7 linked regions of the Homo sapiens genome follow. The protein of the gene in region 4 purifies or fractionates together with the protein of the main gene of each other region. This does not show direct contact. Each region holds a gene or a part of one and is shown on either strand. Other genes may lie near its edges. The genes, in order: C1orf116, LRCH1, PPP6R2, MOB1B, PPP6R1, NECAP1 and ZNF787.

What was found.
Region 1: the proteins of MOB1B (region 4) and C1orf116 fractionate together in Homo sapiens (co-fractionation; one large-scale study listed by BioGRID). This does not show direct contact.
Region 2: the proteins of MOB1B (region 4) and LRCH1 purify together in Homo sapiens (affinity purification with mass spectrometry; one large-scale study listed by BioGRID and IntAct). This does not show direct contact.
Region 3: the proteins of MOB1B (region 4) and PPP6R2 purify together in Homo sapiens (affinity purification with mass spectrometry; one large-scale study listed by BioGRID and IntAct). This does not show direct contact.
Region 5: the proteins of MOB1B (region 4) and PPP6R1 purify together in Homo sapiens (affinity purification with mass spectrometry; one large-scale study listed by BioGRID and IntAct). This does not show direct contact.
Region 6: the proteins of MOB1B (region 4) and NECAP1 fractionate together in Homo sapiens (co-fractionation; one large-scale study listed by BioGRID). This does not show direct contact.
Region 7: the proteins of MOB1B (region 4) and ZNF787 purify together in Homo sapiens (affinity purification with mass spectrometry; one large-scale study listed by BioGRID and IntAct). This does not show direct contact.

The regions. Positions count from the first base shown.
Region 1 is NC_000001.11:207,029,788-207,034,846, forward strand, and holds the start of C1orf116 (specifically androgen-regulated gene protein), read right to left. Parts: upstream 2,970-5,059; 5' UTR 2,792-2,969; intron 1-2,791. UniProt on the Homo sapiens protein: Putative androgen-specific receptor.
Region 2 is NC_000013.11:46,741,494-46,745,790, reverse strand, and holds the end of LRCH1 (leucine-rich repeat and calponin homology domain-containing protein 1), read right to left. Parts: intron 4,150-4,297; coding exon 3,943-4,149; 3' UTR 893-3,942; downstream 1-892. UniProt on the Homo sapiens protein: Acts as a negative regulator of GTPase CDC42 by sequestering CDC42-guanine exchange factor DOCK8. Probably by preventing CDC42 activation, negatively regulates CD4(+) T-cell migration.
Region 3 is NC_000022.11:50,346,013-50,350,309, reverse strand, and holds part of PPP6R2 (serine/threonine-protein phosphatase 6 regulatory subunit 2), read right to left. Parts: intron 1-4,297. UniProt on the Homo sapiens protein: Regulatory subunit of protein phosphatase 6 (PP6). May function as a scaffolding PP6 subunit. Involved in the PP6-mediated dephosphorylation of NFKBIE opposing its degradation in response to TNF-alpha.
Region 4 is NC_000004.12:70,908,694-70,912,990, reverse strand, and holds part of MOB1B (MOB kinase activator 1B), read right to left. Parts: intron 1-4,297. UniProt on the Homo sapiens protein: Activator of LATS1/2 in the Hippo signaling pathway which plays a pivotal role in organ size control and tumor suppression by restricting proliferation and promoting apoptosis.
Region 5 is NC_000019.10:55,234,221-55,238,517, forward strand, and holds part of PPP6R1 (serine/threonine-protein phosphatase 6 regulatory subunit 1), read right to left. Parts: intron 2,751-4,297; coding exon 2,693-2,750; intron 2,602-2,692; coding exon 2,423-2,601; intron 1-2,422. UniProt on the Homo sapiens protein: Regulatory subunit of protein phosphatase 6 (PP6). May function as a scaffolding PP6 subunit. Involved in the PP6-mediated dephosphorylation of NFKBIE opposing its degradation in response to TNF-alpha.
Region 6 is NC_000012.12:8,088,354-8,092,650, reverse strand, and holds part of NECAP1 (adaptin ear-binding coat-associated protein 1), read right to left. Parts: intron 2,716-4,297; coding exon 2,615-2,715; intron 2,457-2,614; coding exon 2,352-2,456; intron 883-2,351; coding exon 801-882; intron 1-800. UniProt on the Homo sapiens protein: Involved in endocytosis.
Region 7 is NC_000019.10:56,100,517-56,104,813, reverse strand, and holds part of ZNF787 (zinc finger protein 787), read left to right. Parts: intron 1-1,586; 5' UTR 1,587-1,596; coding exon 1,597-1,675; coding exon of another isoform or gene 1,676-1,977; exon of another isoform or gene 1,978-3,164; intron 3,165-4,297. UniProt on the Homo sapiens protein: May be involved in transcriptional regulation.

The sequences.
Region 1 (5,059 bases), on a different chromosome or scaffold from region 4:
AAGGCATTGTTGTCAAAAAGTCAATGTAGATCTAAGGGTCTAGTTTTGGGCTCCAATTTTCTTCTCTGTAAAATCAGGGCAGTAAATATTTAAAGTGACTCACTGTAATTAACATCATATTCTCTATGAATGGGTGAGCAGATGCTGCCTCTTACTTTCAGAGAAAATTACTACCCTTGTGCTTCTAAGTATGCTTTAGACTTTACAGAGGTTTTCTAGTCTCTCTTTCCTACCAGGGAAGCTTATCACACTTTTGTTTCAGAACCTAGGATGTCTTCAAGTAGCTGGAAGAGATAAAAGTGGTAGGAAAAGCACTGCTTCACAAGAACACAGCATGCCATAGCTTGCAAAGTACTCTCAGATATGCTAATTCGATCTTCAGCATAAACTGGAAACATAGGCAGGATGTGACGTTTTCTTCATTTTACGGGTGAGAAAGTTATGGCTCTTACCACTAGCCCTTCCTAAGGGAAACAGGGAATGACCTATACATGCATATACAGGGCAGCCCTCCACAGGGCATTTCAGGGACTATCTGGATGCAAGAGGGGCATGCCCCCGAGAATGGTTACTAGCCACCCCTGACTAAAATACTAAAAGCCTTAAAACCCCCTTCTCCTTCTACTTCATACCTTAAACCCTGCAAATCATCTGCTTCAGCTTTATACTTCCAGACCAGTGTATTGCCCCAACAGCAGATATTTCTACAGTAAAGAAATGACACCAACTGCCAAGGAAGATCATGTCTTTAGGGATTACATAATCCCTGCACAGAGGAATCTGAACCTGAAACCAAAGCTGAGCGAGGCGCTGTCACCTCATCTCCATACCTAGTTTTCTGACCTAAAGAATCTTAATGGTGAAAGCTGCATTTCCTTTCACCGACTTCACAACCTTGAACCTTGGGGCTCTTTCAGGGCAGCCATCGAAACCCTGATAAGAAGACTGAGAAACAAACAAAACACTCAAGGTGAGAGTTTGGTATCTTAACCCTTGACCTCTTTGGGAACTTAACGGGAGGAGGGAATGGGTTAAGAAATATGCAGCACCTATAGTCAGGGCCACCCATCCAAAGACACATTAAATATTAACTACACCACTGACTAAAATACTAAATACTGCCAAGCCTTGGAGGAGAGGAAATAAAGAACAGTTCAAGTTCTGGCATCTGGAGATGGTGGGGTGGGGAGAGGGCTCCAGCTCCATTCCAGGTTGGCTTGTCTGTACCTTCTAATCAGACCCAGGTCCCTCTCATCCTCCTCCCACGAACCCCCCACATGTCCTCCAAGAGCTTTGCCTCTCTGCCTACTAGTCAAAGAGGTTTCCTGTCTTTCAATCCAGGTGTCTTTGCTTCTTGTTGACTACCCAGAAATGTGCCTTGGGCTGGAAAATATCCTAAGAAAAATAGCAGAATGACTAAAACTTGCACAGTTTGCATATCTGTCTCCATGAACACATGGGCAAGTTTCTGTGTGTGTTTAGGCAACATTATCATCTTCCCTTTCACCAGTGTGTTTGAGGGAAGGAGCAGGTAGAAATACCCTCTGCATAGCAGAGCTTTGTTAGACACTGCCAGTGGTCTTTATTCCTAAATTCACCATCTAGGGCAGCCCTCAGTCTGTGAGTGTGGGGTGTTGGCTCTGTGGTGTGAGGTGAGCTCAAGCCTAAATCTCCAGTTGCCAGGACTGGAAAACCCATATATTCACTCAGGGCTGCGTGTGCCAGGCCCTTGAGCCTGGCACTGAGGGCTTCCCACTTCCCTCTTCTCTGCAGCAGGAGGAAAAGAGTCAAAGTTAGGGACCAAAGGGTTAAACCCCCCAAGATGGATAATGGAGAGGCAACTTGCTACTCTGACTCGACTCCTACATCTGCCTTCCTTCTGCAGGTAAATCTGCCACACAAACTGCCAACTGGGACACCTGCAGGAAAACAAACAAAGCCACCACCCTGGTCTGCTTCTCTGTCTGTGGACTCTGCCACACTACCTTGGCTTGAGCCCCACTTGGAACTCTAACTAGACTTGACATGCAGCCACGAAATATTCATGTGGGTGAGGCTCGGCACAGCCAGGTAGCTTTCTGTTTGCCAGTCTCTGTGTCTATTAACAGGCTGAGTCAGAAAGTTAATTGAGTAGAATCCAAATAAACTTGACTTTGCAGCTAGATTATCCATGGGTTTTCCAAAGATGAGCTGGTAGCTGAAGTTTTCTCCATGTGCCCCAACCTCATATCCCTTTACAAACAACCTAGTACAGCTCATGCCTAACACACCTGTACACAGAGAGCTCCATTATCACATGAGCATGATCAAACACACACACACATTGCACCCATTATTTAAATAAAGATCGACACCGAGTTGGTAAAGCCACGGGAGAATTTCCTGTTACAGTCGCTATGGAAAACCAAGATACTCTCCCCCATTTTGACTCCCTCTATTTCAACTGTTCTTTTCTAAAATCACAACTCAATTTCAATTGTTCAGAGATGGAAATTTCCAAAACAAATCTATTTTCTTTTTCTTGTTGTTTGCACAATATGCCTATCCAACCTAAAGGGATAAATGAAAAAGAAGGTGCCTCCCAGCCCCAGTCTCCACAAAAACACTACAATCTCAAGTTGCTACCAACCTGATCTGATCCCAGAATGGACTCAGAGAATTGAGGAACAGAGAGGAAATCTCCCTAGCTGGGGTATAGAGGGACACCTCCCCTCCCCTGTAGCTCTGATTTCCCATGAAACCCCTTCCTATTGCTATAGGATAAGCAATAGTTGGTTAGTGATTAACTCACCTCCACTGGGTTGGGGGCTGAAGAGAGAAAAGAAATACCCTTTTGTTTCAAAGGGCAGAGATGGAGACAGAGGCTGCTTCCCCTGCCTCCTACTGTTTTCTTCTCCTTTTGAGCTCCTCCTGACTTACCTAGATAGGTAAATGCTTCATCTGTGCTGCCTGGCCCCCACCCTGCCACTGACTCAGCCAATCCTAGCCTCCCCTCCCTACCTCTCATTCCAGCTGTTTCCTCAGGGAGGGAATGGGAGGGGAATGAGCAGGGTGGTGCTGTTCCCTCTTAGCCAATCATCTCCTACCCTCCCCTTTCCTGTTTAGAGCTAATAAAGAGCTCTTTAAAAAAGGAGGGCTGGAAGGAGGAGGAGCCGGTTTGGGCTGAGACTGGAAGGACAGGTGGCAGGGAGGGAGTAGGCAGAGATAGTATATATATTTAATGTTGATATAAAGGAACGCAGACAGTCCTCTGGGCAGTGTGCTTTTCCATAGGTCTATGTGAAACAGGTTTTTCATCTAGAACTACCTTCTTCCGCTTGGAGCTTAGTTTTCCCCTGAATTCTCTAGGCTAAACTCATTTGTGTTCAGTTTTGCTGCTAGCTTTTCTAGATGTTGAAAGTCACTTTCTTCCCCAAGCCTAATCCTAGCTCATAAGCCTAGCAATTCCATTCATGTCCACTGAAGAAGGTGTCCCCAGGCTAGGGATGCTGTAGTTGGGCCAGTCTCGCCCCAGTGCTTGCCAACAATCTCCTTGGCCTAATTTATTTCTGGGGGAAATAAAACCATTCATCCCCTAAGAGGTCCGTGTCCTGATGAAAGAGTGACTGGACAGCTTGAAAGGAGAGAGCATGCACTCTGTCATTTGGTCCTCTGCTCTCTTTTGGCTGTTCATGGAAGGTGGCAATACATATTATGAAATAAAAACAAAACAAACTACCAACCAGTTTAGCAACTCTTGTCTCCTTTCATGGACTGATACTTGGCATTCGTAGGGAGAAGAGAGTAGGTAGAAGAATCTACTATTTTTGGGAAGAAATTTCCCACCAGGTACAGAGACCACTCTTAACAGATATGATTTTTGCCTGGAAGCTGGTTTTTCCTACAGGTAGATTATCCTTGATAGGTATCAGGATTTGAGGTATTCCACTTACTAGCATTAAAAGGTCAGGGAGAAAATTTAAAATCAATGTACACAATAATTGCCAAAATGTATTAAGCTCTTGCTATTTGCTAGGTATTGTGCTGAGCATTTTCATGTATCTTTTAATTTAGTCTTTAACTTAAAAAAGTAGGCATTTGTTAATATCTAAATTTTACAGGGAGGTTAAAAATCTTTTTCAAGGCCATGTAGCTAGGAAGAGGCAGGGCAGAGATTTTAATTCAGGCAGTATAACATCAAGGTTGCTATGAATCAGCATAATGCCAATCCGCCTCTATTTTGGAAGGAATCTCAAGTGGGAATCATGAAATACACAGATAATTTGCAAGTGTAATTCTAGCTATTAGATTCGTCCTTTTCTGTTTCATTTCCTACTTAAAGCTATTAATATGTTTTATAACAAGACGACACATGGCTTTCATCTTTTCTCTTTCTGTGATCATGGTTGGATAGGAAATAAAAAGGGCAGTGATCCTGGGGCCAAGGTAAAGATGAAGTGGAGCAGGACTAATGGATAGGAAGGAGGTTGGAGGAAGCCTGGGATAACCCAGTACCCTATCAGCAGCCTATGGATATCACAGCTGAATGAGCACTTCGGGCTATGACCTCTTTCCCTGGTGTGTCATTCAAACATATATGATGTCATAATACTAACAAAACAGGAAGGGCATCTCCAAATCAGCAGTTCAGTGCAACCAGAGTCACACCCATGGATGAAGTCAATGAAGTTGATCCAGCTCCATAGGTGTGTGATTTGAACATTTGCTAAAAAAATGAATTGACTTATGAGAATTAACTTCCAAGAGGATAGTAGGCAACAGTCTTATTTGTGAACAGACACAGTTTTTCAGTTATAATAAAATTAGGATAACTAGGAGGAACCCCTATCTTTTACCAGGTAGAAGCAGGGACATAGACAAAAATCATCTTTCCCTTCCTCCCTTTCCTCTCAAAAACTTTTTCTTTTTGTAAATTATGAAATATTTCAGATACACTGACATAACAAACATAACCGTACCTAACATCCAGTTCAGGAAATAAAACATAAACATCACAGTCGAAGTTACTTACAAGCCTTGAGCCTCCCCTCCCTGCAAACACATATATGTCCTAGCTGAA
Region 2 (4,297 bases), on a different chromosome or scaffold from region 4:
GGCATCATCCCACCAGCATATTTCATTTTGTTCAGGCTGCTTCTTATATATAAAGTCCTGGCACTACACTGTTTGAGCTTTAAAACTATCTGTGTGTTATTTTGATGTACGAGAGCTTTAAGTTCCTGCATCAGTTTCTTCAATGTGAAATGGAGACCATTCAACATCTTACAGAGATTTCTTGTTGCTCCTCCCTGGATTATTTACTTTGCAACCATGCTACCTTCTAGTCCATCCTCTCCCTAGAACACTTCATTCTCTACACACACATATGCCTCAACCCTAGTCCCTCTCCCCTCCCCACTCCACCTGGCTATTCCTGAACGTTTGCTAAGTCTCAGTGGAAACACCACCATCCCAGGATGCGTTCACGGTCCCCTATTCCCCATCAGGGTCAGGTCTCTTTTCCAGAATCCTGTACCCGTTCCACCACAGGTCCTTATCACTTGAATTCCTCTTTACTTGTCTAAGGACCTACTAGATCAAGGGTGGCAAACTATGGCCTACAGGCTAATCCAGCCCGCAGCCAGTTTTTGTAAATAAAGTTTTATTGGCACACAGCCACACCTATGTTTGATGTATTGTCTAAGGCTGCATTTATGGTACACAAGCAGAACTGGGTAATCCCAACAGAATCTGCATGGCCCAAGAAGCCTAAAATGTTTCCTTTAGGCCCTTTATGAAACAAGCTTGCAGACTCCTGCTATAGACTGTAAGCTTTTTGAGGACCAGGCCATGTGTCCCAGTGACTTTTTTATCCCCAGGGCCTTGCAGAGATTGCTCATTCAATATTTATGGAATGAAGGAATGAACACAAAAATGAACAAAGTCACAGTGAAAAGCCAGGCAACTAGACTCTGACCATCTTAAAGAAGAAAAAAAGGGCACATTCTATATACCAAATTGATTGTTTATTGAGAACTAATTTTGAAATACGAAGCCTAATTTTTAAAAATCAAGTCTCCTGAAATAAAATCATATTAAAGTATTTTTCACCTAATCCAAAACAACTTTCAGTTTCTTAAAATTTTAAAATATCATCCCTACTTTTTCCCCACAGGCAAAGGCAAAACACCCTTTTGTCCTTATGACTCAATCAGGCATCTACATGAGTTTTCGAGAGATAACCCAGCTCACCACGCGCTAGTTTTAATTTCTTACAAACAAATAGCAGCAGGCTATCAAGTGCCTTTATTTATCTACTCTCATTGATGAAATTTATACTCGATTATCATACATTGTAGTTCTGCGGGGCCCCTTTCCACCAGCCCCATTTCATAAGTGTCTCTCCCTAAAAATAACAAACCAGAAATCCATAAATAGGAAAGATGATTAGAAATTAGGTGTCACAAATTTTGGAATTCCTGACACTGAGTGGAGAGTTGCCACCAGTTGGAGAAACTGGAGAAAGAGAATACAAATGGCTATTTCAAAATAAAATGTAAATAGATACTTGGCTCCTTTTATCTAACATTGGAAGGGAGTACTGAAAAAACGGTCTTTCTTGTGAGGAGGAGATTTGGTCAGCACAATAAACCACTCAGTGACATCCCTGACTACTTCTCAGACTCTAAGGAGGTCAGCCAGGTATCCCCAGTCAAGCTGCAAGGGCAGGCATCCGCAGGCATCCAGTTAGCATATGGGCTGGTGCACGGGTACCTTGGAGAAAAACCACAGAGAAGCTTAATATTCTGATTAGAAATTAATGGGTTGGCAATGGACAGAACAGTTCATTCAAATTTTTGCCTAAAGGACTAAATTAATTGTGTTCTGCTAGTTACCATACTACTAATGAAAAAACATCATCCAATAAATCCCAAGAAGTGCAGCGCAGCAGAGTACAGACAAATTAATGACACAAAAAAAATCAAAGTGCGTCCAAAGAATACTTTGGATGCCAGAATTAAAATATAAATGTCTTTTAATTTGTCTTTAACATGTTTTAATTGAACTATATCAACACTGAAAATTAAATCTACTCTTACATGAGTGTCCTACTCAGTTTTTATTGATATTATTTTAAGGTGGCAACCCAGTAAGTTTTCTTTTTTTTTTTCCCATTTTCTCCCCAGAAAGAAGGGAAAAACCACCACAGTGGTGACCATTAAAGAGAAGCCTCAATGCACTGCAGAGCTGGATGGGAATGCTGAGAGCTCATGAATACATGTATCAATGGGCTGATAAAAACTTGGAATAATCACCCAAAATGTGTTTATTAAGCAATTTATGGCTCAGGGTGCTCATTAGACATCGTACAAAGGGATTTTATTGTGTTACAGATTGAAGAGTACAAGATAGCACCAAAAGTAATTCAGTACATCTGTGGGTTATTCATATACAACTGAGGTTAATTAGATAACTTCCACATACCCTGCATTTCACCAATCAACACAAAGTCAGGAGGAAAAAAAACTCACATAACTCAAGATACTGTCATGTAAAGAATGCTTCCTGTTAGCAAATCTGATCTGACTTAGCAGCAAGGAATCTTTATAAATATATTCTTCTAACTATGTGGGTCTTCCATATTTTCAAGTCCCCTGGATTCATGAAAATGTTCAGAAAAATAAGATTTTCTTCGTAGTAGCCATCTATGAGAGCTGTTTGCATCTTAATAAACTAGAAATTTATCTTGAGGAAGCTAAGTCCATCATCTCCCCAAGCTAAGAAACAAGATTTGGCAAACAGCATGTAAAATAAGGAGGCTGCCTTGACCTTGGAACAAGGCCCTCTCATATTATACAAAGACACCCCTGAATCCAGGGACATTCTGGCTAAGATAAAATTCTTTTTTTTCCTTTTAAATGCAAACTGATCACATTGCTCCAAATGCAGATATAGTTACTATATAATCCTTTGAGCTGACTTAAAGCAGTTTGCTAGTTAATATCAGTGAAAATCAAAGGCTAAATGAACATTTCAAATAATTAGAGAAACTACATTCTTCTAGAATGAAAGTAATCTTCTTCTTGACTCCTGCCATCATAACCCAAGCACCAGGACCAAGAATGTTCCACGGCTCATGGCTTTATTTGAAAATGAATAGAGTCGAATCCGTCACATTCTGGACCGGCAGTTACTATGTGATGTGGCAAAAAAGCAGTGATCCGTTCCATTGTTCAAAAATAGAAATCTCTCTGGAAAACGCTTTTCTAAGAGCCTCAAGAGAAGACCTAACAAGGAATTAAGCAGTAAAAAACTGGTGTTTAAGTGACTCCTCCACGTGAGGCTCTAACAGCAACGACACTTCCTTCCCTTGAGCGCCCTTCTGCATAGGACAGAGGGGCTTGCCGGGGTGGAAGTTGGCGGCCACACTGCCCAGCGCCCTTCGCGGCTCCCTTTTTAGGAAATTTGGGAGGAATCCAATCGAATGGCCATCAAGGCAGTGTGAGTACGTGTACACGTCCAACTTGGTCAGTAGTGGTATTATTAAAGTTTTGTATAGATCAAGTTGGGCCAAAATGTTAGTTTTCTGTCCTCCCTGCAAGGTGGCCCCTATACAGCTCAATTGCCCAGTCCCGAATTAGAATTCTAGTTCAATACTGACCCAAAGGAAAGACTTCCATATGCTAAATCCCTGTCCTTGACACTCTTGTCCTGGAATTCTCCTCCCCTCTGCCCAGGGCAGCAGCTCACCGGGAGGGAGAGGAGGAACTGCGTGGCACTGCTGCTGGCACTATGTGGATGAGGAAGCATGCGGTGTGCATACACTTTGCAGTCGTCGTCGTTGTATTTCAGTAAGTGAGAGGAATTATACTAAACTGTATTCTACAAAGTTTGTGCTTCTGGAAAATCTGATTTGCTACTGTTCAGCTTCAAAACTCGAGAGATAACTGAAGACATGACAGGGATGGAAGTTTGCAAGGCAAAGGCTCAAAGGTAGGAAGGACCCTGCAAAGGTTGAGGGCGACAGAGCACAGCGTTTGGATGCACGTGCAGACATTATGCGGACAGAGCATTCCAGTGGTAAGTGATATAGACCAGCACTATAAAGAGAATATGGACAAGACAGAAGCCTATAAGGTCCCTGGAGCGGAGGGCAGAAGTTGGTGGTGGGGCTTTCTCCCCGAGTGCCAGCAGAGTGTCAACAGTCTTTCGAATGTGACGAAAATCCAACTGCAGGATGTCACACGGAGAGCAGAGGTCAGCCTATTCCGAGGGCAGCCATTAGAACAGAAAGAGACAGTGCATACAATTAAAAATACACGGAGGAACAGCTAGAAAGAAGCACACATTTTTGGTTACTAGCAAATGGCAGGAGTAACCCCTTATTTCAAGCAGGTAAGACCCTTTCATC
Region 3 (4,297 bases), on a different chromosome or scaffold from region 4:
GCAGTGAGCCAAGATTGCACCACTGCACTCCAGCCAGGGCAACAAGAGGGAAACTTCGTCTCAAAAAATAAGTAACAGAACTAGAAGTAGAGCCTGAAGATGTGACTGAATTGCTGCAATCTCAGGATAAAACAGATAAGGAGCTGCTTTTAATGAATGAGCAAATAAAATGGTTTCTTTTTTTTTCTTTTTGAGACAGAGTCTTGCTCTGTTGCCTAGGCTGGAGTGCAGTGGCACAATCTTGGCTCAGTGCAACCTCCACCACCTGGGTTCAAGGCATTCTCCTGCCTCAGGCTCCCGAATAGCTGGGATTACAAGCATGCACCACCACGCCTGGCTAATTTTTGTATTTTTAGTAGAGACGGAGTTTCACCATGTTGTTCAGGCTGGTCTCGAACTCCTGACCTCAGGTGATCCACCCGCCTCGGCCTCCCAAACTGATTACAGGCGTGGGCCACCACACCCAGCTGCTTTTTTCTGTTTTTTTTTTTTTTAAGATGGAGTTTCACTCTTGTTGCCCAGAATGGAATGCAATGTTGTGATCTTGGCTCACTGCAACCTCCGCTTCCCGGGTTCAAGCAATTCTCCTGCCTCAGCTGGGATTACAGGCGCATGCCACCACGCCTGGCTAATTTTTTGTATTTTTAGTAAAGACGGGGTTTCACCATGTTGGCCAGGCTGGTCTCGAATTCCTGACCTCAGGTGATCCACCTGCCTCAGCCTCCCAAACTGCTGGGATTACAGGCATGAGCCACTATGCCTGGCCACATTCTGCTTTTGTGGGTGTGCTTTTATTTATTTTTGGCAGAGATGGGGCCTCACTATGTTGCTCAGGCTGGTCTAGAACTCCTGGCCTCAAGTGATCCTCCCGCCTCAGCCTCCCAAAGTGCTGGGATTATAGGCACGAGTCACCACGTCCAGCCCGTTTTTTTTTTTTTTTTTTTTTGAGACAGGGTCTCACGCTGTCGCCCAGGCTGGAGTGCAATGGAGTGATCACAGCTCACTGCAGCCTTGACCTCCCCAGGCTCAGGTGATCCTGCCACCTCAGTGTCCGAGCAGCTGGGACTATAGGCGCACACCACCATGCCCAACTTTTTTTTTTTTTTTTTTTTTTGAGAGGAAGTCTCACTCTTGTCGCCCAGGCTAGAGTGCAATGGCACAATCTCGGCACACTGCAACCTCCACCTCCCAGGTTCAAGCGATTCTCCTGCCCCAGCCTCCTGAGTAGCTGGGATTACAGGCGCCCACCACCATGCCTGGCTAGTTTTTTTTGTATTTTCAGTAGAGATGGAGTTTCACTATGTTGGCCAAGCTGGTCTCGAACTCCTGACCTCAGGTGATCCGCCCGCCTCAGCATCCCAAAGTGCTGGGATTACAGGCGTGAGCCACTGCGCCCGGCCCTGCTTTTTGTTTTTGTAGAGATAGGGTTTTGTCATGTCCCCAGGCTGCCCTGGCCTTAAGTGATGCTCCCACCTCAGCCTCCCAAAGTGCTGGGATTACAGGCGTGAACCACCGCACCCAGCCCATGTGCTTTTAAATAAATAGCCATCCCCAAGGCTTTATACCTTGCCCCCATGATGACAGTTGTATACCTGCGGCTTGGCCTCTCCTCTGGGTTCCAGACCCTCCTGTAAGATACCTTCTCCCTAGTGACCCTCGGACTTCTCAGACTTCCCCTACTTTCAGCCAAGAGAAAGCCTTGCTTTCTACTTCCAAACTGTAGTAACACCCCCAGCCCTGACACCACCCTAATTCAGCTTCCCTATTTCAATAAACAGTGCTACTATCCACCCATTTGTTCCATCAGAAAGCCTAGAAGGGTTGATGGGGCTGGGAGGATAAAAGCAGCCCAGAAATTACCCTGAGTCCATTCATTCTCTCACACCTCTCTTCTCATCTACCAACAAGTCCCAACAGCTCTACCTCCAAAATATCTCCCTAAACCCACCACCAAGTTCTAAACCATTACAATCACTACACCCAGCTCCCAACACTTCATCTCACCCCCACCTGCTGTCCACGTGCCAATGTCCATATGATCATGGCACTCTCCAACTCAATCTCCAGGCCAGGTTTCTCCTACAACTCAGACTGAAGGTCCAACTCCCTACTAACACCTGCAAGGAACGGCTTAATGAGAAAACCAACTTTCCAGCCCAGGCTCCTGCCTCTCTCTCCCTTACCATAAGCACATCAGTCTTATCTAGGTTCCTGGAGGATATCACACCCAAAATTTCCCACTTCAGGGCCTTTGCATGTGCTGTCCTCTCAGCATGGGAGACTCTGTCCCCCAATTTGTCTCAAAGCTAGCTGCCTCTCACATTCCAAAGATTAACTGAAGTGAGTTAGAAAAGTCAAAGGGGAGAGATATATACACCTATTGTGTACCCACAACATTTTAAAGTAAAAAATAAAAACAAAGGGAAGATAAACCAGAAAAAGGGACATCAAAAAGAGGTGAAGAGCCTCTTTCAGTGAACAGTGAACAGTGTCGGCAACTGCAGGGGCAAGGAGAAGCCAAGAGCAGGGCAGAGAGAGGCCATGAGGGAAGGGTGGATGAAAGAACAAGACACAGGAGAAGGGTCTAGAACAAAATCAGTGGGTACAGTGACAAAGAGGGGGCTGCAGTGAAAGGCAGGGACTAAATGGAAGTGACAGACTTGGGGGAGCTGGTGCTGACAGGTCAGGGAATGAGCAGCAAATTGGGAGGAGTCAGTAACAAGAGAGTGGACAAAGCAGGTAGGGAAGCTGCGAGTACACAGAGTGGCAGGTCGGGGGACAGTACGGTGCATGGGGGAAGGTGACAGGCTGAAGGAAGAGATGATGGGGATGGAAGCAACAGGGCAGTGCGGGGTAAGGTGAGGTTAGATGACTGGTGATATCTCAAGCCGTGATGGGGAGCGCGACAGGAAAAGACGAGTAGTGTTGGAAAGGGTTAGGAAATAATGGAAAGGGGAATCAGTGATTGGACAAGAGGGGTGATGACAGCGGGCACTGAAAGTTCTCCCACTGACAGGCAGGAGAGAAGCAGTGGGGAGACACTGACAGGTGGGGTCACTAACAGCAGGGCAGGGTACTAATGGGTCCCTAACAGATAAGGGATGAAGGAGGTAGCATGAAAGGGGACAGGAACTGACAACAGGGGAGAACTGATGGGGAGGATCTGACAGGCACTAACACAGAGGCCGATAGCAAAGAGCGGAAGGGCCACAACAGGCAGGATGAGGGAGACACTTATGAGGGAAACTTACTGACAGTGGGGCTCACTGACAGAGGCACTGGCACTGATGGGGGGCACTGACAGAGAAGATCAATGACAGGTGGGGACATTGCTGACAGAAGGGGTCACAGAGCGCTTGGACTGACAAGGAAGGGCACTGGCAGGGGAGGGATTATGCGGTCAGTGACTGACGGGTACGGGTGGGGGTGCAGGCACTGATGGGAAGTGGGGACATGACAGAAAGAAAATAATTGACTGGGGGGGCACTGGCTGACGGGGGACAGGGATGCGGGACTCTGACTGGGGGACACTGATGGGGAGCAGAGTGGACTGACGGTGGGGGAGCACTGACCAACAGTGGAGGCACTGACCAGTGCGCGGACTGACAGATGCGGAGGCACTGACCGACAGGAGGAGCATGACTTGCAAGGGGCACTGACTGACGGTGGGGGGCACTGATGGGTGGGGTGGGGACTGATGGGTGAGGTGCAATGACTAGCTAGCAGGGGACACTGACTGGTGCAGGAAGCACTGACTGGTGTAGGGTGGGGGAACAGAAGGAGGGCACTGACTGGGGGGGCACTGACTGACTGGGAGGGAACTGACTGGAGGGGGCCCTGACTTGGGAGGAAACTGACTTGGGGGGCACTTACTGGAGGGGAACTGACTGGAGTGGGCACTGACTGGGGGCACTGATTTGGGGGGCACTGACTGGAGGGGGCACTGACGGGGGAACTGATTGCGGGGGGAACTGACTGGGGGGGCACTGACTGAGGGGAACTGACTGGGGGACACTGAAGGGGGCACTGACTGGGGGGAACTGACTAGGGGATGCACTGACTGGGGAGAACTTACTGGAGGGGCACTGACTGGAGGGGACAGTGACTGACTTGGGGGGGGCACTGACTGGGGGGCACTGACTGACTGGGGGAACTGACTGGAGGGGGAACTGACTGACTTGGGGGGCACTGACTGGGGGGCAACTGACTGGGGGAACTGACTGGAGGGGGCACTGACTGGGTGGGTCACTGACTGGAGGGTTCACTGACTGGGGGGAACTGACTAGAGGATGCACTG
Region 4 (4,297 bases):
GAGCCCAGAAGTTCAAGACCTGCCTGGGCAATACGGTGAAACCCTATCTCCACAAAAAAATGATTAGCCGGGTGTGGTAGAACATGCTTGTAGTCCCAGCTACTCAGGAGGCTGAGATGGGAGGATCCCTTGAGCCTAGGAAGTCGAGGCTGCAGTGAGTCGAGATCGGGCCACTGCACTGCAGCCTCGGCAACAGAGCAAGACTCTGTGAGAAGAAAAGAAAAAAGAAAAACACTACAGACATAAGTGGATGCAATACATGATTCATGACTGGATCCTTTTGTCGAAGATTACATTGTTAAAGCAACAGATGAAACTCAATGGGGTTTCTGGATAAGGAATATGTGGAAGTTCTTTGCACTGTTCTTTGCAACTTTCCTGGAAGTTGAAAAATGTTTCAAAATTAAATTTAAGGCCGGGCGTGGTGGCTCACACCTGTAATCTCAGCACTTTAGGAGGCTGAGGCCGGTGGATCACCTGAAGACAAAGTTGAGACCAGCCTGGTCAACATGGTGAAACCCCATCTCTACTAAGAATATAAAAATTAGCTGGGTGTGGTGGCGGGCACCTGTAATCCCAGCTACTTGGGAGGCTGAAGCAGGTGAATTACTTGAACCCAGGAGGCAGAGAATGCAGTGAGCAGAGATCGCACCACTGCACTCCAGCCTGGGAGACAGAGTGAGACTCCATCTCAAAAAAAAAAAAAATTTAATTTAAAAATCACTTCTGTAAAAGAATGTTACTTCACAGCTACACTTATACTTAATTAAATGTGTTGTAAAAGATGGACCTAAGGCTGGGCACGGTGGCTCACGCCTGTAATCCCAGCACTTTGGGAGGCTGAGGTAGGTAGATCACTTGAGACCAGGAGTTCAAGACCAGCCTGGCCTACATGGTGAAACCCTGTCTCTACTAAAAATACAAAACTTAGCTCAGCATGGTGGTAGGCGACTGTAGTCCCAGCTACTCGGGAGGTTGAGGCTGGAGAATCACTTGAACCCAGGAGGCAGAGGTTGCAGTGAGTCAAGATAGTGCCTTTGCACTCCAGCCTGGGAGACAGAATGAGACCCTGTCTCAAAAAAAAAAAAAAAAAGATGGCCTTAAGTTGGTTAATATAAAACAAAAATGGAAACGTAGGAAGAAAAGGAGAGTTAAAGTTCTCTACAGGACTCAGTTTGACATTCCTAACAGGTAGAACTGTTTCATATTTTTCAAGTAACATGTAGCTATTTTGCCTCAATATCTCCTAATCAAATACACAGTTTAGGGAAGTGCTACATGTATTAGACACGTGCTTTCATATATCAGAAACTCCGAAAGTACAAAAACTGCAACTACACTTAGAGAAAGAAATCAATAATGGTAAAAGTAACCAAATGGCAATTATTTTGCACTCTAGTATGTAAAGGAAAAAAAAGCTATCTCTAAACATGATAAAAGTAAACTAAAGCCAGTCAGTCCTGCAATTCCCAAAACTACAGTTCTTTCTGAAAAGATGACCATATTTACTTCCACTCCCCACATTCCCTCAAAAATACAACATATTAAAAAGGATAACATATATTATATATAAGGATATAATATATGACATATATGTAAGATGTTATCCTTTTTAATGTTATATTAAATTCTATATATTTAATAACAAAAAGAAAAAAATAAAATAACCTTACAGTGGAGAATATATTATAAGGATATAATATCTGATATCCTTTTTTGTTGTCAGATAAAAAACTGTAAGATAATACTTGGTCATCAGCCATTCAAAATGATGTTGCAGAAATCTATTCTCTGGCAAAAAAAAATTTACAAGTAAAAAACCTGGTCTACGCACGGTGGAAATCCATTTGTATATTTTTAAATACATACAAACAAAAATGCAATAAAAAAGATTCAGAAGAAGTTAGCAGGGCGCGGTGGCTCACGCCTGTAATCCCAGCACTTTGGGAGGCCAAGGCGGGCGGATCACAAGGTCAGGAGTTCCAGAACAGCCTGGCCAATATGGTGAAACCCCATCCATACTAAAAGTACAAAAATTAGCCAGGCGTGGTGGCGGGCACCTGTAGTCCCAGCTATTCTGGAGGCTGAGGCAGGATAAACGCTGAATCCAGGAGGCGGAGGTTGCAGTGAGCTGAGATCATGCCACTGCACTCCAACCTGGGTGACAGAGCAAAGCTCTGTCTCAAAAAACAAAAAAAAAAAGATTCAGAACTTTATCCCTAAATACAAACAACAGTTGTCTCTGAAGGTGTGATTATGAGTGATTTTTATTTTCTTCCTTTTCCTAACATGATTTTGTGATTTCTCCAACATGTATATTATTTTTACACTAAAGATAAAGGTTAAAAATATTTAAATATTATATGAATTTAAAAGTTACTATTTCGTCTTCTACTAGTGTATTCTTGGTGAATCTTAGAAGAGAGTCCCAGCATCATGAGACAATAATGCCTGGTAACATAAGACTTCCCTTAATAACAAGGCCCACTTGAATATCACCTTTAAGAAAAAAATATATATATAGATATACATACACACATATATACATACATATGTGTGTATATATGTATATACACGCATGTGTATGTGTATATATATCTATATATAGATATAATTTTGTTAATTATAGATGATAGTATAAGGCAGGATCAGCTGGGCGCAATGGCTAGCACCTATAATCCCAGCGCTTTGGGAGGCCGAGGCAGGCAGATTGCTTGAGGCCAGGAGTTCGAGACCAGCCTGGCCAACACGGCAAAACCCCATCTCTACTAAAAACACAAAAATTAGCTGGGCATGGTGGCACACGCCTGTAGTCCCAGCTACTCAGCAGGCGGAGGCAGGACAGTCACTTGAACCTGGGAGGCAGAGTTTGCAGTGAGCCAAGATAGCGCCACTACACTGCAGTCTGCGTGACAGAGTGAGACTTTGTCTCCAAAAAAAAAAGGCCGGGCGTGGTGGCTCATACCTGTAATCCCAGCACTTTGGGAGGCCGAGGTGGGAGGAGCACCTGAGGTCAGGAGTTTGAGACCAGCCTGGCCAACATGGTGAAAATCCCATCTCTACTAAATATATAAAAATTAGCCAGGCATGGTGGAGGACACCTGTAATGGTGAAGGGCACCTGTAATCCCAGCTACTCAGGAGGCTGAGGCAGGGAGAACTGCTTGAACCCATGAGGTGGAAGTTGCAGTGAACCAAGATTGAGCCACTGCACTCCAGCCTGGGTGGCAGAGCAAGACTCCGTCTCAAAAAAAAAAAAGAAGTATAAGACAGGATCTCTGGACCTAGACTTCCAGGACTCAAATTCCAGCTACACTATTTACTGGCCACATGATTTTGATAAAATTATGTAACCTCTCTGTGCTAGTTTCCTTATGTATAAAATAGGATTCCTGCTAATTACTGAACTATTTAAAACACTTTGTCCCTGGCACATAGTAAACACTCATTGAACTATTATTGTTATTTTTTTTTAATGTTTTCTTTTTAGAGGCAGGGTCTTGCTCAGTTGCCCAGGCTAGAGTGTACTGGCACAAGCATAGCTCACTATAACTCAAATTGGCTCAAGCCATCCTTCTGCCTCAGCCTCCCAACGTGCTGGGATTACAGGCATGAGCTACCACACCTGGCCTATTTGATTATTCTTATAAATTATTAACTTTTTTTAAAGGTGAGGCTGCTGAAGCATTAAAATCAGTTAAATCATTTGCCTGAAAACAAAATGCTGGCTTTGGGGGCTTGGGGGGAAGTGAGGGACAGAGAGACAGAGGGAGACAGAGATAGACACATATAAACATAGCACTATCATGAGTCTAGAGAGAAAGAGACAGACACATATAAACATAGCACCATCAAGAGTCTAGAGAGAAACAGAGACAGACACAAACATTGCACTATCATGAGTCTCTTTTCCTAAATTGCTAATTTTTTTTTTTTTTTTTGAGATGGAGTCTCACTCTGTCGCCCAGACTAGAGTGCAATGGCACAATCTCGGCTCACTGCAACCTCCGCCTCCCAGGTTCAAACAATTTTCCTGCCTCAGCCTCCCGAGTAGCTGGGATTACAGGCGCCCGCCACTACGCCCAGCTACTTTTTTCTATTTTTAGTAGAGACGGGGTTTCACCATGTTGCCCAGGCTGGTCTTGAACTCCTGACCTCATGATCCACCCGCCTCAGCCTCCCAAAGTGCTGCTAAATTGCTAATCTTTTTTTTTTTTAAGACGAAGTCTCACTGTGTTGCCCAAGCTGGAGTGCAGCGGCATGATCTCGGCTCACTGCAACCTCCACCTCACGGGTTC
Region 5 (4,297 bases), on a different chromosome or scaffold from region 4:
ACAGGTGTGAGCCACCGTGCCCAACAAACCTCCCATTTTCAAAACTTACTATAAAGCAACAGCAACCAGGCCAGTGTGGTACTGGATAAAAACAACACACAGACTGATAGAACAGAACAGAGAGGGAAGAAACAAACTCATACATATGGTCAAATATTTCCTTTTTACACAGGTGCCAAGATGATTCAGTGGAGAAAGGACAGTGTCTTCAACAACTGGTGCAGGGAAAACTGGTTATCTATATGTAAAGGGATGAAGGTGGACCACCTCACATCATATACAAAATTTAGCTCAAAATGAATGGAAAACCATAGAAATAATGCTATAAAACTCTTAGAAGAAAAGAGAGGGCTAAGTCAAGATGCTGGATTTGGCAGTGACACACTTGTGCACCAACAACACGTGCAAGGGTATTCACAGCGGCCGCACTCACAGCGGCTGCACTCACAGCAGCGAGCAACAGGAACCTGCCCAAAGGCCTGTCAACTGCAGAACAAGCAATTCAGCTGCAGCTCATCATGCATGGCACTGCCCCACTGCACGAGAGCCAGGGGCACCCAAACACACAACAGGGAAGGAGCTCACAAGCAGAGTGTTGAGCAACAGAGGTCAGACATAAAAGGAGATGCTGTATGCTATATCAAGTGAAAACAGAGACAAAACTCATCTACAGGGTTAGAAGCCAGGACAACTTTACCCTCAGAAGGGAGGATACTGGCTAACAGAGGGGATGTGGGTACTGGGAAGGTCCTGCTCCTGGGTCTGGGCACTGAGGAAGGATATCCATTGGCCACACACTCAGGATCTGTATGTACACTTGTCTATACGCATGTTACATGTCAATAAAAAGTGAAAACAGCCTAATTCCGAAATCAAAAGTCATGAGTCAAAAACTCAGTTGCAGATGATGACTTAGTGTTCAGGCTGTCAAATCTACATGGCATGAACCCATTTCATCACAGCGACTCTGGGGCCGGCCAGTATTAAGAGAAAAAAAAAAAACAATGTAACATTTGCACTAAAATGTCATCACAGCCTGATTGGAGAGGGACGTCATCATCTCTCATTTTACTGGAATTAGAGAAGAGAGAAGCTGCCTGGGACCATCTTACCCCCCTTTCTAGGAAAACGTGTGAGAGCTAACACGAGGAAGTGAAGTGAAGGGATGAAGGAAGGAGACAGGGAGGCGGGAAGAGAGAGACACACACAGACCAAGCCATACCTCAGGACCTGCCTATTTTTTCAGCCACAGAGATTATCCCTTTCTTTTCATAACTTAACTCATTTGAATTAGATTCCTTTTTTTTTTTTTTTCTGAGACAGAGTCTCGCTCTGTCGCCCAGGCTGGAGTACAGTGGCGCAATCTTGGCTCACTGCAAGCTCCGCCTTCCGGGTTCACGCCATTCTCCTGCCTCAGCCTCCCAAGTCGCTGGGACCACAGGTGCCCGCCACCACGCCCGGCAAATTTTTTGTATTTTTAGTAGAGACGGGGTTTCACCATGTTAGCCAGGATGGTCTTGATCTCCTGACCTCGTGATCCGCCCGCCTCAGCCTCCCAAAGTGCTGGGATTACAGGCGTGAGCCACCGTGCCCGGCTGATTTTTTTTAATTTGTTGATTCTTTTTTTTTTTTTTTTTTTTGAGACCAGGTCTCTGTCACCCAGACTGGAGTGCAGTGGTGCGATCTCAACTCACTGCAACCTCCGCCCCCCAGGGTAAAGCGATCCTTCCACCTCAGCCTCTCAAGTAGCTGGGACTACAGGCACACGTCACCACATCCAGGTAATTTTTGTAGAGACAGGGTTTCGCTATGTTGCCCAGGCTAGGTCTCAAACTCCTGAGCTCAAGCGATCCATCCACCTTGGCCTCCTCCCGAAGTACTGGGATTACAGGCTTGAGCCACTGTGCCCGGCTAATTTGTTGATTTCTTAATGCATCATCTACCTTTTTTTTTGAGACAAGTCTGGCTCTGTTGCCCAGACTGGAGTGCAGTGGTATGATCTCGGCTCACTGCAACCTCTGCCTCCCTGGCTCAAGCCATCCTCCCACCTCAACCTCCCGAGTAGCCAGGACTACAGGTGCACACCACCATGCCCATCTAACTTTTGTATTTTTTGTAGAGACAGGATCTCCCTATGTTGCCCAGGGCTGGTCTCAAACTCCTGAGCTCAAGCAATCCATCTGCCCTGGCCTCCCAAAGTACTGGGATTACAGGCACTCAGGGATTACATGAGCCCACCATGCTTGGCCTTGAATTAGATTTCTATCACTCAAAAGTGAAAGTGCCCCCAACTAATACACACACCAATGCAGGTTCCTTATTTTCTTCATTCACTTCAGCCTCAGTCCAAATGTGTTGGGGGGACCCCTTGGCCCTGCCGTGTGGTGGAAGCTTGGAGAAGGGAAACTGGAGGGGGACTCACCGGACACCAGGTGGCTGGCCCAGACGGGCCCCCCTGGCCAGCTGGCTGCCCTGCCAGGCGCCATCTTCTCCATCAGACTCCCCTGAGCCCTGGGCCTCTTCCTCGTCCTCCTCTTCCTCATCATCATCAAACTGCTGGATGCGGTCCTTGTAGCATATCTCAAGTAGGTTGGCGTTGGGCTGCAGGGCACAGGGGTGGGAGGATGGGCCACACTGCCCACAGCCCCACACCCCTCCACCCGCCACAACCAGGGGACAGGGCAGTACTCACGTTCTCATCGTCAGCATTGAGGGAGAAGGTGATGTTGGCTGTCTTGTCAAAAGGTGCGCTAGGAGAGAAGGCAAGGCATGGTGAGAAGGTCCACCTGGGGGTGGGGGCAGCACAGGACAGGCCACATTTCTTTCTTCACTCAACACAGAGCTGACCCTCATTACTTGCAGATTTGGTATCTGCAAATTCACACACAACCCGAACCACTGGTCCTAAGGGGCAACGCATACATGAATATCAACATCTCACATATGATCACTTTAAATCCTTAAAACCACTCATTGAGGTAGGCTGTTTCCCTTGGCTCTAGAAGTGAGAAAATGGGGCTCGGAAATGTTAAGCGACTCTCCTCAGGCTCTTCCAAGGACAGGTGCCAGAGAGGGATTCAGATCCATGCCCTTGTCCCCATCCTTGGGGCATCTGTAGGAGGCTGACACTCACACCAGCCAGGCACAAGCAGAATGTGAGACTACAGCCCAATAAAGCACATCCCCTAACCTCAAGATGTCTACGGTCCGCGGCTGAAATTCTAAATTATGGGAAAAAGAATCACGTCAAAACTTAAACTGTGCCTGCCAGGGCCCCACCTCCCTCACCACGAGGGTCTAATGATCAGGGTCCACATTCTGTCCCACGTGTTACGGACAGTTCAAGGGATCATTTGTCTCAAATTCATGAAAAATTCTGCCACAAAGATCAATGGATAAAGGACAGTTAATTCTTAAAGGACACTAAGTATGTGACAGACATTACTCACGCACTTCATTCTCACAACCACCTTCCAAGGCAAGTGTCCTTAGTCCCTCCTAGACACTGAGAAGCAGCGGAGCAGAGACCACGCTGGGCACACAGTGGGTCTAGGGCAGGGCAGCCCATGTCCCCGTGGCACTGGCAGCCTCAGCTGACCTGGCTTCTGCTACAGGAGCTATGCGGGGCAGCATCTTCAGCCTTGAGATGATCAAACCAGTCATCCACTTTCCATTCCGGAAATCTTTCTGGGTTTAGTTTTGTTCACTTAACTTCTTAACCCCTCTGGAATTTTCTTGGTAGAGGAAAAGCTAACAGTTTCATCCCGAAAGGGGCAGCTGGTGACCCCAATGCCATCTACCAGTCAGTCCCTTCATTCTCCTGCCAGGGTGGGGTTTTCTTCTTTTTTTTTTTAATTAAAAAAGCAGAGATGGTCTCACAATGTTGCCCAGGCTGGGCTGAAATTCCTGAACTCAAGCGATCCTCCTGCCTCGGCCTCCCTAAGTGCTGGGATTAAGATGTGAGCCACTGTGTCCAGCCCAGTTTTCACTTGAGCATCTTCTCCAGGGGTCTCGGCACAGGCCACTGACCCACAAAGACCAACGCTCTGCAAGTCTCCATGCTGGGCACAGAAGCAGCCAACACAGGATATCACGTCTGCATCTGAGAGGACCTCTGTCCAGCTGTGGACTAAGCCAGGAACAGCTGACTATCCCTCATCGTGGTGTCCCTTACGCTGTGCTGTACAGGGACCCCGGGGCAGCCATGGGCAGCCATCCAGCTCCCACACACTAACCAGCTATGTCCTGGGGCCTCAGTCTCCCTGGCCGTAAATGAGCTCATCGTGGGGAGCAAGAC
Region 6 (4,297 bases), on a different chromosome or scaffold from region 4:
AGTTTGAGATTTCCTGAAAGCAGAGTCTGACATACAAATTTGGGTGTATTTACTTTTATGAAATGAGATTCCAGAAAACACAGTGAGAGATAAAAAAGAGTGAGAAACAGAAGGGAAAAAAGCCAAGAAAGAAAACAACTGGGGTTCAATTCCACTGGGGACTCTCTGAGAAATCTCACGGAATACGTATTAGAATTGCCCCTTCCAGAAGGATGGTATTTAGCCACCAATTCCCATTCCCCACAGTTGAGGGCTGCTCCTGAGGGGGTGTTAGTTTCTTAGTCTTTCCAAGTTAAAGCTTGCTCTTAGCTTTCTATAACTTCAGAGAGTCCTAAGGCAGAAAAGGAGAGATATGCTTGCTCTTGAGGTAGGAAGCTGACAGTGTGCACAGTGCTGTCAACCACAGCTGCACCAAAATCAAGTGGGCTAAAGAAATGTTGCAAAAGTCACAAAACATGTCAGCTACATAAGGTAACAAGAGTGGCACACGACTCCCCACATAAAGCCCTGCTGTTACCATAGGCCTCCCTCTACCACCTAAAAGACGGGGCAAATTCGACAGAGCATCATTTCAAACTACTGCACAAGGGATCTGAAATATATTGCAGGCTATAAGGAAAGGAAACAGAATAGATACAAAGATGACCTAAGGAAACAAAAGTGAATGGGGAGATTTATATTCACAATGAAATAGTTTAAGAAACAAAGAAACCAGGAGGAAAAGAGATACTGCCCATTCATGTGAGAAGCAGCATTCCTATAAGCATTCAGCCTCGTAACTAAGGACAAGCTTCACTCACTTGAAGTGATCCTGCAAGGAGACATTAAAGTCGAAGGCATCTCCCCGATCTGTGAAGCCAATGCCAATGAAAGCACTGCGCCCTGTGGAAAACGTAGGAAGACTCGACTAGGAAGTATCCTCTATGGCAGGAGCCCCCAACCCCCGGCACCAGTCTGTGGCCTGTTAGAAACCAGGCCATGCAGCAGGAGGTGAGTTGCACACGAGAGAGCAAAGCTTCATTGTATTTACAGCCGCTCCCCGTCACTTGCATGACCACCTGAGCTCCGCCTCCTGTCAGATCAGTGGCAGCATTAGATTCTCAGAGGGGTGTGAACCCTACTGTGAACTGCACATGTGAGGGATCTAGGTTATGAGCTCCCTATGAGAATCTGATGCCTGATGATCTGTCACTGTCTCCCATCACCCCCGTCTAGTTGCAGGAAAACAAGCCCAAGGCTCCCGCTGATTCTACATTATAGTGAGTTGTATAATTATTTCATTATACATTACAATGTAATAATAATAGAAATAAAGTGTACAATAAATGTGATGCACTTGAATCATCCTGAAACCATCCCCTAATGCCGGTCTGTGGAAAACTGTCTTCCACAAAACGGGTCCCTGGTGCCAAAAAGGTTGAGGACTGCTGCTCTATGGCAAATTTTGCCCAATGAAAATATAACAGTCACCCTAACTAGACAAAGTCTGAATGTGAAATATCTTCTCATAGACCAAGAGTCGATAAACTACATAGAGCCCATGGGCTTTATCCTGCCATAGCCTGGTTTTGTAGAAGAAGTTTCATGGAACATAGTGGTATCAATGTGTTTACATATTTTCTACAGTGATTTCACACTACAACAGCAAAACTGAGTAGTTGCAACAGAGGCCACCTGACCTGCAAAACCTAAAACATTTATTATTTGTCTGTTTGCCAACCTCTGTTATAGACCATGGAGAAAAGAGTAAGAATGACTGCCCCACACGTAAGATGATTCAAGATAGTCCCACCAAAAACTACCACGAACAATAAACGGGCAAAAAGTGTTCATTCTTTTTTTTTTTTTTGAGATGGAGTTTTGCTCTTGTTGCCCAGGCTGGAGTGCAATGGCGTGATCTCGGCAACCTCCACTTCCCCAATTCAAGTGATTCTCCTGTCTCAGCCACCCGAGTAGCCGGGATTACAGGCACCTGCCACCACGCCTGGCTAATTTTTTATTTTCAGTAGCGACAGGGTTTCATCATATTGGTCAGGCTGGCCTCAAACTCCTGACCTCAGGTGATCCACCCACCTCGGCCTCCTAAAGTGCCAAATGTGTTAATTCATTTGTTAGATATGTGTTTTTCATTTATTTAAGTCTACATATGAATTACCACATCTTGAACTCGTGCTTATCTATTACAAATAACATGTTAATACTTTTCCTTTAGCAACTAGAGCAACTTTAGAGAAAGGGAAGAAAAAATGAAGTAAACCAAAGAAAGATAAATGCAATCGGAAACACTTTTCATGGCTGTGCATTCACCTGTTTTCCTAACTTCGTTCCACTCAAAATCCCAGTTCTCTTACCAGTACCATCCTGGATCCGGATTACAAAGTAGCGGCTAGAATCTGTCACCGTCTCCACAGCAATACCAGGATATTGTTCTACTGGTGCCTGAGCAAAGAGCTCCCCTGACAGATAAGAGAAAGACTTTTTTGAGTAAAGCAAGCCAAAATCCAGAACCCCAATTAACAAGTAGTATTTCCATTCCAGTCCCCAAATTGAAGGTACTTATAAAAGCACACCAAATTAATATTCTTAATGTTAGAGGGTCACCCGCAAAGATTACCTGAAACTTTATCCTCGAGTTTGATATAGGCAGTCTTCCCTTTTGAAGTGATTCGGAGGCGACCAGTCCAATCAGGCTGGTCTAATTTCCAGTCAGAGGCCCTAGGACAGGAAAAGAGGAAGCCTCAGGCACATGTCCTTAATTTACTAACGCCCACCCACAATCTTTGACTGTATTTCTATTTCCCTATCCTGGATTGCCTATTCTTTCTACCTATTAATCAACAAGAATAATTCATGATCTATTTAGATGCCTCATGTTACATACAGTCCAAAGCAAGTAAAAGACAATGCTACTACTTGAGGACTTTGGAGTCCAATAAGCATCATTAAAAAGATGGAAAAGCACGAATAAAAGCAATAAAAAATAAAATTCTGGCCGAGCATGGTGGCTCAAGCCTGTAATCCCAGCACTTTGGGAGGCCAAGGTGGGTGGATCACTTGAGGTCAGGAGTTTGAGACCAGTCTGGCCAACACGGTGAAACCCCGTCTTCTAAAAATACAAAAATTAGCTGGTTATGGTGGCGTGCGCCTGAAATCCCTTGGGAGGCTGAGGCAGAATCAACTGAACCTGGGAGGTGGAGGCTGCAGTGAGCCGAGACTGCGCCACCGCTCTCCAGCCTGGGCGACAGAACGAGACTTGGTCTCAAATAAAGAAATAAATAAAATTTCTCATAACGATGCTATTTTCAAACTATAGATGGTATACTAGATAACCATGCTTTACTAATCAGATAACAACAAAGTCTACTACATTAAATATCCTAGGTAATGGGAGCCCTCCCAAATCAGTAAATATACTATCTTTCACTGAATTCAATCAATATTTATACAGTACTTATTAGGACAGATGCATCACTGTTCCAGATGCTTAGGATACAACAGCAACCAAAACAAAGATTCCAACCCTCATGAGGCTTACATCCTAACAGAAGATAGAAAATAAAAAAGAAACATAATAAACAGCATAATTAGTATCTTAGAAAGTGGTGAGTTCTAAGGTAAAAAGAAAATGTAGAGGCAAATTAGGAAGATTAAGAAGACAGTGGGAGAATGAACAAGTTGTAGCATTCAAGAGGGTGGTTGGGGTAGGTCTCATTAAGGTGAAATGTGAGCTAGAATGTGAAGCAAGAGAGTTATCCATACAGATGTCTGGGGGAAAAGCATTCTAGACATAAGGAACAGCTAGCCCAAAGGTGCTACGGTGGGGGCATGCCTGGCATGTTTGAGAGACAACAAGGAAGCACTGTGGTTAGAACAGAGGAAGAGACAAGGTGGGAGAGGTAACAGACGGCCAGATCACGCAGGGCCTTGTGGGTCATAGTAACAACTTCAGCTTTCACTCTGAGTGAAAAAAGAGCTATTACAAATTTTAAGCAGAGGTGTGACATGATCTCCCTTATATTCTAAAAAGATTACTACATCTGCTGTCTGGAGAAAAGCTGTTGGGATAAGAGGACTGAAGCAGGGGGATTAGCTAAGAGACTACTGCAGTAATCTAGAAAAGTCACAATGGTAGCAGAAGTGGCTATATTCTGGATATATTTAGGGTAAAAGTAGCAGGATTTTCTAATGGATTAGATATGGGATAGAAGAGAAGGATATATTTAGGGTAAAAGCAGCAGGATTTTCTAATGGATTAGATAGGGGATAGAAGCCAAGGACAACTCCAAGGTGTTTAGCC
Region 7 (4,297 bases), on a different chromosome or scaffold from region 4:
GAACCCTTCAACAACTCGGGCGCGTGGCAAAGGCTCTGCTCTCCACTTTAGCTGTGTGTGTGCGTGGCACCGCTTGGTGGTGTGCGTAGAGAACCCTCACAGTGCATGGCACAGGTTGGTGTTGGTGTGCGTAGAGACTTTCACAGTCACGGGTTGGTGGTGTGTGTAGAGATCCTCTTGGTGCATGGCACGGTTTGGTGGTGTCATGTGTAGAGACCCTCATGGTACGTGGCACGGGTGGGTGGTGTGCGTAGAGACCTTCCTGGTGCGTGGCACGGATCAGTGGCGTGTGTAGAGACCCTCACTGTGCGTGGCACGGGTCGGCGTGCGTAGGGACCCTCCCGGTGCGTGGCACGGGTCGGCGGCGTGCGTAGGGACCCTCCCGGTGCGTGGCACGGGTCGGCGGCGTGCGTAGGGACCCTCCCGGTGCGTGGCACGGGTCGGCGGCGTGCGTAGGGACCCTCCCGGTGCGTGGCACGGGTCGGCGGCGTGCGTAGGGACCCTCCCGGTGCGTGGCACGGGTCGGCGGCGTGCGTAGGGACCCTCCCGGTGCGTGGCACGGGTCGGCGGTGTCGTGCGTAGGGACCCTCCCGGTGCGTGGCACGGGTCGGCGGTGTCGTGCGTAGGGACCCTCCCGGTGCGTGGCACGGGTCGGCGGCGTGCGTAGGGACCCTCCCGGTGCGTGGCACGGGTCGGCGGTGTCGTGCGTAGGGACCCTCCCGGTGCGTGGCACGGGTCGGCGGTGTCGTGCGTAGGGACCCTCCCGGTGCGTGGCACGGGTCGGCGGTGTCGTGCGTAGGGACCCTCCCGGTGCGTGGCACGGGTCGGCGGTGTCGTGCGTAGGGACCCTCCCGGTGCGTGGCACGGGTCGGCGGCGTGCGTAGGGACCCTCCCGGTGCGTGGCACGGGTCGGCGGCGTGCGTAGGGACCCTCCCGGTGCGTGGCACGGGTCGGCGGTGTCGTGCGTAGAGACCCTCCCGGTGCGTGGCACGGGTCGGTGGTGTCGTGCGTAGAGACCCTCCTGGTGCGTGGCACGGGTCGGTGGTGTCGTGCGCAGAGACCCTCACGGTGTGTGGCACGGGTTGGGAGTGTCGTGTGCAGAGACCCTTAGGCGCCTGTTGCCCTGTTTCTGCTGTGATGGGTAAGTATCTGCCAGGGGTGTGGGAACTCCAGTCCCTGTTTGGCATGAGCACCACATGTACACTGTCTTGTGTACGCTTGACAGTAACATGTTCTCCATCTTGCCAGTGAGGAAGCTGAGGCGCGAGGAGGCGCGAGGTGGGGTTGCTTGCCCCAGGTCCAGCTGGGGAGTGGTGGGGCTGGGATGGGAACTGGCGGTGGTTGTAGCCCTTGAGGGTCCTTGAGTCCTTCCTGCGGCTGTGTGAGGCCTTGGCTGGCCCCTGCAGTGGGGAGCGGCCAGGCTAGCTCCAGGCCAGTTCTCGGTGTCCTGGGGTAGGTGCTGTGTGCCTTGTCTGCCGGGCGCTGTGCCTGTCACGCCGGGGTCTGCAGGCTGCCTCCCTGCAGGGCCCTCGGTGCAGCCTGGCACCCCATAAACTCTGTCCTTCTGTCTCATCCCCTTCTAACAGGGACCCAGACATGGAGCTGCGGGAAGAAGCCTGGTCTCCGGGGCCGCTGGATTCTGAGGACCAGCAGATGGCCAGTCACGAGAACCCAGGTGAGCAGCCAGAGGCCTTCCCAGCCGACCCCGCTGCCTCCCACCTGACCCTGGCTTCCTTTGCCTCTGGGTGGGAGGAAACCCCCCTTCCCTGTTTTCCCCTCTTGGGGCCCTGGGACCACCCGACCCTGGCCTCCCCTCCCGCCCTGGGCCTTGCACTCCTGGCTGTAGAGGGAGGGCTAGTGTTGTGGCTCCAAGTTTCCTTTCTGCTGGATGATCTTGGGGACCCCTGGGGGCCACCTTCTCTGCCTGACTTCCTCTGTCCTTGCCCCTCCAGCCTGGGCAGCACCCCCGTCTGTTGAGGGTGCCCCCTTCCTCTCCCCACAGCCCCGCCTCCACATCCTGGACCCTCTGCTATGATTCCAGGCGGGCCTGTGGCCCTCCCTGGCAGGAAACTCCTTACACCAGGGGTGGCCCAGGAGCGCAGGGAACCCGCAGGCTGATGCCGACTTTTCAGGGAAAGCTCAGGAGTGCAGGGAACCCGCAGGCTGACGCAGACTTTTCAGGGAAAGTTGTCAGTTTGGGTTTTTATGTGAAATCCTTCACTTTTTGGACATTGGCAATGTGTTTTGTTTGTTTAATAAAGCATTATTGGGGTTGAGCAAAACTCATTTGTGGGCTACGTGGGGCCCAGGTTTGCTTGCGAAGGCCCCATGGTGACCTCACTGTGGCCCCTGACACCTCATGGCCTCCCTCCCCTCCACGGAGGCCGCCTCCCTGCCTCAGACCTGAGGAATAAGGTGCGGCAGCTTCTCTCCTTGCTGTGTCTGCATGTCAGGCCCCAGGTCCCAGGCCCACGCTGGCCCCACGCTGGCCGGGGCTCAGCAGACCTTTTCTGCAGAGAGCCAGAGAGGAAATACTGTTCATCTTGCAGGCTGCGGGCCTCACAGATACCACGCAGCCACAGTCCACACGGAAATGCGTGGGCACACTTGATGCAGAAAGGCCGGCAGAGCTTGCCAGCTCAGGCTGGCATAGCTGAGTCGTCCCATACAAAGACCGGGGTGAAGTTTGGGATCGATTTTGTAAAGCACCTCAGCCCCTTTTTGAGTGATTTCTGAGATCTGTGGATGGAGCATGAACAGAAGCTCCCTGTGGGCGGGGCTGTGGCAGCCTTGGTCCCGGGGTAGAAACTATGATGGGGGTTTTGAGTGCGTTGCCAGGACCGCATGCCCAGGGGGCCCACACCCCGGCCCCAGGCTGCCCCGCGTCTCAGTGGGTGGTTGCCATCCCGCACCGCCACAGCCCTCGAGGGCTGCCCCTGCCTTCTCCCTCGCATACATCCTTGGCCTTCGAACCTTTTCGAAAATTAATTCTGTGGAAATCTCAAGTGTGTGGACGCAGTGTGATGAATCCCTCTTCCTGCGCCAGCGATTCGCGGCACTGCTGGTCCCTTTCTGCCCACTGTGGTTCTCTTTCCACAGCGTTTTAGAGAAAATATCCATCACATCATTTTGTCTGTAAATTCTCCAACATGTAAGGACTCCTTGAAAAAAAGAAAAAGCCCTACAGGAAGCTGATCTCATCTAACAAAATGTCATTTTTCAGGAACTTCATCTAATCTAGCACCCGGTCCTTTTTAAAATACTTCGTTGTCTCCAAAATGCTTGTCTTTGAGTAAGTTCATCTTTAATTTTACAAGTCACTCATACACTCACTCTCTTTGTAGAAGGTAGGTGTCAGGTCCCCTTGTCCAGCCCGCTGCCCTGCCCAGCCCTGGCCCTGCGTCTGTGGGAGTCCTGTCCCCCACCAGGCAGCTGGCTCCGGGGAGGGCCTGCGCTTGGCGCCGCCTCTGGAGCATCACCCCTGCGTGACGCCCTTGCTCGGCTGTCAAAGATGGGCTGCGCACGCTCCCAAGCTGCTCTGGTGTCCGGCGTTCGCGTAACTCCCGTGTGGGGTCCCGCCTACATGCGTCCCCCCTATGTGACAGTGACAGACATCGTAGGTGGGGGTGGAGTGGCGGGGGTTGGCCTGGCCATGGCGTGTGGAGTCCCGCCTACATGCGTCCCTCCTATGTGACAGTGACAGACATCGTAGGCGGGGGTTGGCCTGGCCATAGCATGTGGGGTCCCACTTACGTGCGTCCCTCCTATGTGACAGTGACAGACTTCGTAGGTGGGGGTGGAGTGGCGGGGGTTGGCCTGGCCATGGCGTGTGGAGTCCCGCCTACGTGCGTCCCTCCTATGTGACAGTGACAGACATCGTTCGTGGGGGTGGAGTGGTGGGGGTTGGCCTGGCCATGGCGTATGGAGTCCCGCCTACATGCGTCCCTCCTATGTGACAGTGACAGACATCGTAGGTGGGGGTGGAGTGGCGGGGGTTGGCCTGGCCATAGCATGTGGGGTCCCGCTTACGTGCATTCCTCCTGTGTGACAGTGACAGACATCGTAGGTGGGGGTGGAGTGGCGGGGGTTAGCCTGGCCATAGCATGTGGGGTCCCGCTTATGTGCGTCCCTCCTATGTGACAGTGACAGACATCGTAGGTGGGGGTGGGGTGGCGGGTGTTGGCCTGGCCATGGCGTGTGTGGTCCCTTTTCCTCTAGCCTATTGCTGAGGGATATGGGGGCCCATGGGGCAGGCATCTGGAGAGGAGCATACCCTGGAGGGGCAGGGGAGCATGCC